2 separate regions of the Homo sapiens genome follow, and region 1 is linked to region 2. A link means that fine-mapping ties the variant in region 2 to the expression of a gene that starts in the linked region. Tissue or cell type: esophagus muscle. Region 2 holds a variant in brackets; the other region holds the start of a gene. All regions are shown on one strand. Distances are between the middles of the regions.

What was found. PIP is the estimated chance that this variant, and not a neighbour inherited with it, causes the effect. A credible set is the group of variants that fine-mapping cannot tell apart.
Region 1: it holds the start of MATK, and the variant in region 2 is the best candidate, but not a certain one, in a credible set for the expression of MATK in esophagus muscle (GTEx, PIP 0.68).

Annotation. Positions count from the first base shown.
Region 1 is chr19:3,784,033-3,788,919 of GRCh38, forward strand. It overlaps MATK (megakaryocyte-associated tyrosine kinase), which reads right to left and starts at 2,349. Exons shown (of 14, transcript NM_139355.3): 1 at 2,137-2,349; 2 at 1,032-1,254; 3 at 793-852; 4 at 306-419; 5 at 92-207; 6 at 1. The coding sequence starts at 1,103. RefSeq lists enhancers at 782-1,777, 1,139-1,433 and silencers at 1,139-1,433, 3,308-3,506.
Region 2 is chr19:3,900,247-3,905,133 of GRCh38, forward strand. ATCAY (ATCAY kinesin light chain interacting caytaxin) reads left to right here. Exons shown (of 13, transcript NM_033064.5): 3 at 2,241-2,299. Among named protein-coding and RNA genes, the nearest start is that of ATCAY, 22 kb to the left of the region's middle. The variant C/T (reference allele first, on the strand shown) is at 2,760.

The sequences.
Region 1 (4,887 bases), 120 kb before region 2:
CCTGCGGCCACGGAAGGGGTGGGTCAGACTGGGCTGTGGAGGGGGGGTCACTTGCTGTCCCCTACCCCAGGCCCCTGTCCTGCCCACTCACGGCATGAGGCTGAGCTTGGGGTCTGCGGAGAGGGCCTCCCGCTCCCGCAGCGCCCCAGCTGCCAGCAGCCCCTCCTGTCCACTGGTGTGGTGCTTGACGCGGTACCAGCTCTTGTTCTGCCAGGGAGGAAGCACGGGGTTAGTGTGGGGGGTGTGGGGGTGGTCCTGGTGGAGCCCCCAGCCCCAAGCACCCACACCCGCCGGCCACCTCTCACCTCGCAGGCCTCCAGGATGGTGACCACGTCGCCCTTGCGGAAGGCCAGCTCCCCTGGCTTGGGGCGGGTGTGCTCGCATTTGGTGATACACTGGGTGCCCGGGGCCCAGCGCCTCTGCAGAGGGGGCCGGGAGAGGGGCAAAGGGAGGACATCACGGAGATGTGGGGAGCAGAGGCACGGGAGGGGAAAGAGGACAGGAGGGAGAAAGGTATAGAGATTGGAAAAGAGCGGAGAGGCAGAGAAAACAGACGCAGACATCGGGGGAAAGAAAGGGGGAGTGGGGTGCTCAGAGAGAAATCGTAGAGTCACAAAGAGAGGCGGCCTGGGACAGAAGGTCAGGAAGCCAAGATGACTGAGAAAGGCCAGGCCGAGGCCAGCAGAAGGGGGTAGGGGGCAGAGAGTACAGCCCTTCAGGAAGGGGTCTCAGGGTGTGGACGGAGTTGAAGAAGGACCCGGGGAGCAGAGGAAGCAGGCTAGACACACTCACCGTTGGCATCCTGGCTGAGACGGGAGGGGGGTGCCAGGCTCGGAGGAAGCGGGGGCTCACCTGGGGAGGGGACAGAGTCCAGGTGGGAGCTGGGCTGGGACCCACGGTCCAGTTCCTACCACTTCCAGCCCAGGTCAGGTGGGGGCGATGGCTGGGCAGGCAGAGAGAGCCTCCCCAGAGGCATCCTGGATGGGACCCAGAACTGGCTCCCCAAGCCCCTGTGGGGAAGTGATCTTTACCCGGGGAAGTTCCTCAGCAGAATCACAGCCGTGAAATGCCCGCCAGGAAACCAGAGAGCCTCGCCCCGCCATCGCCCCCAGAGGGAAACTGAGGCAGGTGAGAGGCACACTGAGCAAGTGGTCACAGTCGGGGACGCTGGGAATGGCCTGCCACAGGCCAGTCGGCTGGCACAGGAGGTAGGGAGCTGGGTGCCACTGGACCGAGCCTGGTTCTTCCTGTTTTCTGGTTGGTAGGCAGGGGCAGGGTGGGGAAATAGGGATGAGTCAAGGTCATTCCCAAGAATCTCTGACCGTGGGGTGGAGCTGGGGGCAGGGGCGGGTCCTGTAGCCCTGCTGGGCTCCTCCGGCCACCCGCTGAGCCTCTCTGATCCCCCCCCAAACCCAGGACAGACACACAAAGTCACTCATTGCTGCAGGGGTGGGGGAGCCTCCCTGCCTCCCCCATCTCCCCGACCGCTAGTGGCTGGGAAGTGGGCGGTGCTGGGGGGTGAGTCTCGGCCCCTCCAAGATGCGCCTCCCATGAAATCCTCCAGTCCCACGTGTACTCACACGCATACGGATGCATGCACACGCACAGAAACACACAGGGCTCGGACACAGCTGCGCGCAGACAAGCAAAGGACCACGTCCACGTGGAAACAGGTGTGCGCACACGTCCCCGCGCATCCGCGCGCACAAGCGCTCCACACCTGGGAACGTGCGCACCTGTCCCCCGCCCCCGGCACACACACAGCCGCCCCACACTGGAACACCTGGGCGCCAGCGCCGGGCCACTCGGGCACGCAGGGCGCTACGCAGGGCCGCGCACACGCTTTTCGGCCACACGCGCACAGCCCTCCACGTGGACGCGCGGGTACACACGCCCGGGGCTCGTAGCCGCGCACACCCGCACCCAGGAAACCCCAGCCACCACCACGCGGGGTCCGATCGCCTCTGAGCACCCTCCGCCCCAGCCGCGCACCCGCTGCGCGCCCGGGACGCGCACACTCGCGCACACACCGGCCCTTCCTGCGCACGTCCCGGGCCCACCCCCGCCTAGAGCCCTCGGGGTTTCCCCCCACCCCGGCCTCGGGGTCTCTCCACGTCTCCCCGCCGACGTGCTCACCTGCTCAGGGGGCGCCCCCGAGCCGCGCCCCGCGCCCGCCCCCAGGAGGGCCTCCGCGAGCCGGCTGCACACCCCGAGGCGGTCCCGGCTGCACAACTTGGAGCGAGTTGCTCCGTTTCCTCATTTTGGGGGCGAAGAAGGGTCGGGGAGTGGGGGAAAGCGGGAGGCGCCGCGGCCTGGGAGGCCCCCGCGGGTCCTAGCGCCGGCCGCACTGCGGTCTCCTCCGCGCGCCGCCGCCGCCGCCGGCCCCTCCCCGCCCCGCCTCCGCGGCCCCCGGCGCCTCCCGCGCGCCCCGGGCGGGGTCCCGGGGCGCACGCGGGCTCCACGCCTGGCCCTGACCTGGCCCTGTCGGGCGTGCACCCCCCACCCACCCTGGGAAGCGGGGTTCTTGGAGCGTGGAACGGGCGCCGCCAGTGCGCGCGGCGGGGACCGGGGGTGAGGGAGAGTGAGCTGCCCGTCCGGGGAGATAAGCAAGGCGCCAAGCCCGGACTCCCAGAGGACACTTCGTACTCTGCAATTCCAACTCCCTCAGTGTCGCCCATTTGAGCACCCACCGTCTCAGAGGGCTATTGGTGGTTGACAAAAAAAAAGCTTTCAAAATGTCAGCCGCTATCAATATCATTATCATAATCATCAACATTAAGGGAAAATTGGAGTAACAGAATCATCGGGAACTGTAATCATCCGGATGCAAACTTCTTAGAGCTGCCCTCCTTGGAGGGTAAAAGGGGGGCCTGGGAGTTGGAGGGACCTGGCTCTGCCCGTAGGTAGGAGGTACCCCTTTTCCAGCCGGGATTTCCTCCCCCATATGGAGGGTGGGGGCCCCACCCGCTTTCACCTCACAGAACAGTTTGATCTCACTTGGTCTTGGTGGACAGGGCCCTGGCCCCCAGCGATGGCTTTGTGGTTGGGGTGACCAAAACGCCCAATCTGCTTTCACCCAATGCAGGCCTTTATCTTTATTTTTATTCATTTATTTTTTGAGACAGGGTCTCACTCTATCCCCTGGGCTGGAGTGCAGTGGCGTGATCATAGCTCACTACAGCCTTGACCACCTGGGCTCAAGCCAGCCTCCCGCCTCAGCCTCCCGTGTAGCTGGGACCACAGGGTAATTTTTTTTTTCCCAAATTTTCATAGAGCCATAGAAGGGGTAGCCTCAGGAGGGGGTGAGTTCCCTGTCCTGGGAGGAATCCAAGAATTGGCCACTTTGCCTTTTTTTTTTTTTGAGATGGAGTCTTGCTCTGTTACCCGGGCTGGAGTGCAGTGGCGCTATCTTGGCTCACTGCAACCTCCACCTCCCGGGTTCAAGCAATTCTCCTTCCTCACCCTCCTGAGTAGCTGGGATTACAGGTGCGTGCCACCACGCCCTGCTAACTTTTGTATTTTTATTTTTATTTTTTTGAGATGAAGTCTCACTTTGTTGCCCAGGCTGGTCTTGGACTCCTGGGATCAAGCGATCCTCCCATTTCGGCCTCCCAAAGTGCTGGGATTACAGGCGTGAGCCACCACGCCTTGCACCTTATCATCCTTTCTAAGGGATGAGTCCTCTGAAACAAAGATGAAGTTCATCTTAGGAGGGCAATGAACCGAGATGCCCAGGTGGCCTGCGCCCATATTTAATCTTCTGTTACCCCAAAAGGCTGTGTGTCTGGACTTGGGGGCATCACATGATTTTGCGGGGAGCAGAGGCCCAGTTACAAGAGAATTACAGAACAGCTATATTAAGGAACATTATGCAGCAGACTAGGAAACTATATTATTATTATTATCATTATTAGAGCTGGGGGTCTCTCTGTGTTGCCCAGGCTGGCCTCAAATGCCTGGGCTCAAGCGAACCTCCTGCCTCAGCCTCCTGAGTAGCTGGGACTACACGTGCACACCATGGTGCCTGGTTAAACCATACTATTATATATATTATATTATTAATATTTATATTATATTATATTATATTATATTATATTATATTATATTATATTATATACCTGGGGCATCCAGGATGCTCTCTCATCTCAATAGCATCAACTTAATCCCATCTGTAGGCTGGGCCCAGTGGCTCACGCCTGTAATCCCAGCACTTTGGGAGGCCAAGGCGGGCAGATCACCTGAGGTCAGGAGTTCTAGACCAGCCTAGCCAACGTGGTGATACCCCGTCTCTACTAAAACTACAAAAATTAGCTGGGCGTGGTGGCACATGCCTGTAATCCCAGCACTTTGGGAGGCCGAGGCGGGTGGATCACGAGGTCAGGAGTTCGAGACCAGCCTGGCCAAGATGGTGAAACCCTGTCTACTAAAAATACAAAAATTAGTCTGGTGTGGTGGTGGATGCCTGTAATCCCAGCTACTCGGGAGGCCAAGGTAGAGAATTGCTTGAACCTGGGAGGCGGAGGTTGCAGAGAGCCAAGATCGCGCCACTGCACCCCAGCCTGGGCAACAGAGTGAGACTCTGTCTCCAAAAAAAAAAAAAAAAAAAAAAATAGAGATGGGATCTGGCTATGTTGCCCAGGCTGGTCTCAAATTTCTGCACTCAAACGATCCTCCAACCTTGGCCTCCCAAAGTGCTGGGATTCCAGATATGAGCCACTGCACTATCTCAGCTCACTGCAACCTCTGCCTCCTGGATTCAAGCAATTCTCCTGTTTCAGCCTCCTGAGTAGCTGGGATTACAGGCACATGCCACCACACCCAGCTAATTTTTGTACTTTTAGTAGAAACAGGGTTTCACCATATTGGTCAGCTGGTTTCAAACTCCTG
Region 2 (4,887 bases):
AGTGGTGCCATCATACCTCACTGCAGCCTCCGCCTCCCAGGCTCAAGCAGTCCTCCCACCTCAGCCTCCAGAGTAGCTGGGACTACAGGCACCACCACGTCCAGCTAATCTTTGTAATTTTTGTAGAGACAGAGTTACGCCATGTTGCCCAGGCTGGCCTAATGTCCTTTTCCTTCTGCCCCACAACCCCATCCAGGATCCCAGATGACATTTAGTTATCACATCTCCTGACACTCCTCTGGACTGTGGCAGTCTCCCTGTCTTTCTTGTTTTGATGCCCTTGATAGTTTTGTTTGTTTGTTTGTTTTGAGATGGAGTCTCACTCTGTCACCCAGGCTGGAGAGCAGTGGCACGATCTCGGCTCACTGCAACCTCCGCCTCCCGGGTTCAAGCGATTCTCCTGCCTCAGCCTCCTGATAGCTGGGATTACAGGTGTCCTCCACCATGCCTGCCTAATTTTTGTATTTTTAGTAGAGATGGCGTTTCACCATGTTGTCCAGGCTGGTCTCGAATTCCTGAGCTCAAGTGATCCTCCTGCCTCAGCCTCCCAAAGTGCTGGGATTACAGGCGTGAGCTGCTGCGCCTGGCCCATCCTGTATTTTTTGGAATGACATCACTATACACAGCCTACACAGAGTTATCCTTCATCTTTTTTTTTTTTTTTTTTTTTTTTGAGACAGAGTCTTGCTCTGTGGCCCAGGCTGGAGTGCAGTGGCACGATCTCGGCTCACTGCAAGCTCCGCCTCCTGGGTTCATGCCATTCTCCTGCCTCAGCCTCCTGAGTAGCTGGGACTACAGGCACCTGCCACCACGCCCCGCTATTTTTTTTGTACTTTTAGTAGAGACGGGGTTTCACCATGTTAGCCAGGATGGTCTCGATCTCCTGACCTCGTGATCCGCACGCCTCGGCCTCCCAAAGTGCTGGGATTACAGGCGTGAGCCACCGCACCCGGCCTATCCTTCATCTTCTTGAGGGCAGAACTGTACATAAACTATTTCCAATTCTTCTGCACAAGAAATGTGTCTCTTCTCTCCTGTTTATTTGTTCAGTGACTTATTTATATCCGTATGGACTCATAGACATTTATTTTACATCTTGGGTTATAATTCAATATTTCATTATTTATTTGGTTGCACAAACTGTTCCAGCATTGACATAGAGATCTCTTCTGGTTGACTCAGGTTTTTGTGGGGGTTTTATCTATTTATTTATTTTTAATACTTTTTGCTGCATTTGAGAGTCAACAACTCATCAGAGACCAAATCCCACAGGGTCGCCCTAGAGAGAATTCAACTTACTAACTTATTTCAAAGTTTTTGAAGTCATGTGATGCTGGGGAAAAACCTTCATTCTCCTCAAGCCGTGCAAAAATCTCCAAAAGGCTTAATATAAATTTGATTATCTAAAAGAAGCCCTTCAGCCCTGATGCGTTATAATTTTCTTCCTCTGCTAAAGAAAAAACATGCTGGGCGGGCGCGGTGGCTCATGCCTGTAATCCCAGCACTTTGAGAGGCCGAGGTGGGCAGATCACAAGGTCAGGAGTTCCAGACCAGCCTGGCCAATATGGTGAAACCCCGTCTCTACTAAAAATACAAAAATTAGCCGGGCATGGTAGCGGGCACCTGTAGTCCCAGTTTACTTAGGAGGCTGAGGCAGAAGAATGGCCTGAACCCGGGAGGCGGAGGTTGCCGTGAGCCGAGATCATGCCACTCTACTCCATCCAGCCTGGGCGACAGAGCGAGACTCTGTCTCAAAAGAAAAAAATAAAAGAAAAAGAAAAAACATGCGCTTGTGGTGGCTCACGCCCGTAATCCCAACACTTTGGGAGGCTGAGGTGGGAAGATGGCTTGAGCCCAGGAGTTCAAGAGCAACCTGGGCAACATAGTGAGACCCCATCTCTACAAAAAACCAAAAAACTACAAAAATTAGCCAGCCGTGGTGGTGTGCACCTGTAGTCCCAGCTACTCAGGAGGCTGAGGCAGGAGGATCTCTTGAGCCCAGGAGGTTGAGGCTGCAGTGAGCCATGATCACGCTACTGCACTCCAGCCTGGGCGATACAGTGAGGCTCTGTCTCCAAAAAAATGTATATATTTAGGTCCAGTGATTCTCCAGAACTAAATGTGTTTTGCTTTTGTTCTTGTCTGACTCGCCTGGCTGGACCTGTCTGGGCCACTCCACTGTCCTCTGCCTGAATCTCTGGTGCCCGGCGACTGATGCCTGTTCCTGGATGGGTCCGCAGGCCACTCCCAGAAGAGACGGGGGTGGAACTGCTTGGCAGCCCGGTGGAAGACACATCCTGTAAGTTTCCACGTCCACAGAAGGGCGGAAACAGGCTCAGTGTTTCCGGGTTTCAGCCCTGCCTGGGGCTGTAACTGTAGAAATGTCAGAGGCCACACACCGTGGGTAGAATGTTCTGTCCTGGGGTCTATGGTGGAAGTGGCCGTGGTGGGTGAGAGACACAATGGATGATGGCGCTCTCATGAAGCCAGCACGCTGTGTTGCTGTGTGTCCCTGTGCTAGTCACTCAGCCTCTCTGTGCCCCAATGCCTCATCTACTAAATGTAGGTAGCGAGCTTCTCGCAGAGGGGGCATGTAAGGATTAAATGAGGTGATGCCAAATGCCCTGGAGGCACAAAGTCAGCACAGCCAAGGGTGCACTGGGAGGCTCTGCTATCTGGAGCTCTAAACATATACATTTTAATGTGTAATACCTTATATTAGACCCAAATATATACATTTTTTGGGAGACCGGGTCACA[C/T]TCTGTCATCCAGGCTGGAGTGCAGTGGCGTGATCATGGCTCACTGCAGCCTCAACCTCCAGGGCTCAAGAGATCCTCCTGCCTCAGCCTTCTGAGTAGCTGGGACTACAGGTGCACACCACCATGGCTGGCTAATTTTGGTAGTTTTTGTAGAAATGGGATCTAGCTATGTTGCCCAGGCTGCTCTTGAACTCCTGGGCTCAAGCCATCTTCTTGCCTCAGCCTCCCAAAGTGCTGGGATTACGGGCGTGAGCCACCACGCCTGGCATGTTTTTTCTTCAGCAGAGGAAAAAAATCATAATGTATCAGGCTCTGAAGCCCCAGATCCCGGGGATGGGAGTCCTGGGCGGCCAGAGGAGAGTTTTAGCCGTAACCTGGCGATTGCAACGTGCCTCCGGAGGCAGGGAAAGGGCCCAGGTTGGCACCGTGGGGAGAGGTGGGGTCTGGGGAGGACCTGGCAGCCAGCCCCACTTAACGACATTCAGTTAAGCAGAATATGGAAAATAAACCTGTGAGGGCCAAACAAAATTTTTTTGGAGACAGAGCCTCACTGTATCGCCCAGGCTGGAGTGCAGTAGCGTGATCATGGCTCACTGCAGCCTCAACCTCCTGGGCTCAAGAGATCCTCCTGCCTCAGCCTCCTGAGTAGCTGGGACTACAGGTACACACCACCATGGCTGGTTAATTTTTGTAGTTTTTTGTAGAGATGGGGTCTCACTATGTTGCCCAGGCTGCTCTTGAACTCCTGGGCTCAAGCCATCTTCCCACCTTGGCCTCCCAAAGTGTTGGGATTACGGGCGTGAGCCACTGCACCCGGCCGCCTGTCTCTATTTAAAAAGAAAAAAAAAAAAGGCAGGTCACCGTGGCTCACGCCTGTAATCCCAGCACTTTGGGAGGCCGAGGCGGGCAGATCACGAGGTCAGGAGTTTGAGACCAACCTGGCCAACATGGTGAAGCCCCGTCTCTACTAAAGATACAAAAAAAAAAAAAAAAAAAAATTAGCCGGGCATTGTGGCACTTGCCTGTAATCCCAGTCACTCAGGAGGCTGAGGCATGAGGATCGCTTGAACCCAGGAGACGGAGGTTGCAGCAAGCTGAGATTGTGCCATTGCACTCCAGCCTGGGTGACAAGGCGAGACTCTGTCTAAACAAAACAAAACAAAAAAAGATTAGTCGGGCTTGGTGGCGCATGCCTGTAATCCCAGCTACTTGGGAGGCTGAGGTGGGAGAATCACTTGAACCTGGGAGGCGGAGGTTGCAGTGAGCTGAGATCCTACCATTGTACTCCAGCCTGGGTAACGGAGTGAGACTCCATCTCAAAAAAATAAATACATAAATAAAACAAAATAAATTAGCAGACTTTGGATTAAAGCAGGCAGCCATCTGTGATGTGGGTGGGCCTCATCTAATCAGTTGAAGGTTTTAAGAGAAACAGACTGAGGTTCCCCCAGGCAGAGACAATTCTGCCTGCGGACGGTTTTGCAACATCAACTCTTCCCTAGGCGTCCCGCCTGCTGGCCTGCCCTGCCGATTGAGGACTTGTCAGTCTCTGTGATCACACGAGCTAATTCCTTAAAATAAATTTCTCCCTCTCTCTTTTTTTCCATACATATAGGAAAAAAATATGTATACACACACACACACACACACACACGTCCTATTGGATTTGTTTCCCTGGAGCACTCTGATTAAAATAGGAGACTATCCTGGATCCTGTATTATCCAGGTGGCCTGACATCGTTACAGGATCCTCATGAGTGGAGACAGGAGGGTGAGAGTCAGAGAAAGCCTAGAAGAAGATGGGCTGCTTTCACAATTTGTCTGCACAAGAGATATGTCTCTTCTCCTTTATTTATTTATTTATTTATTTTTGAGATAGAGTTTCACTCTGTCACCCAGGCTGGAGTGCAATGGTACGATCTTGGCTCACTGTAACCTCCGCCTCCTGGGCTCAAGTGATTCTCCTGCCTCAGACTCCCAAGCAGCTGGGATTACAGGCGCCACCACTGTGCCCGGCTAATTTTTATATTTTTAGTAGAGATGGGGTTTCGCCATGTTGGCCAGGCTGGTCTCGAACTCCTGACCTCAGGTGATCTGCCCGCCTCGGCCTCCAAAGTGCTGGGATTAC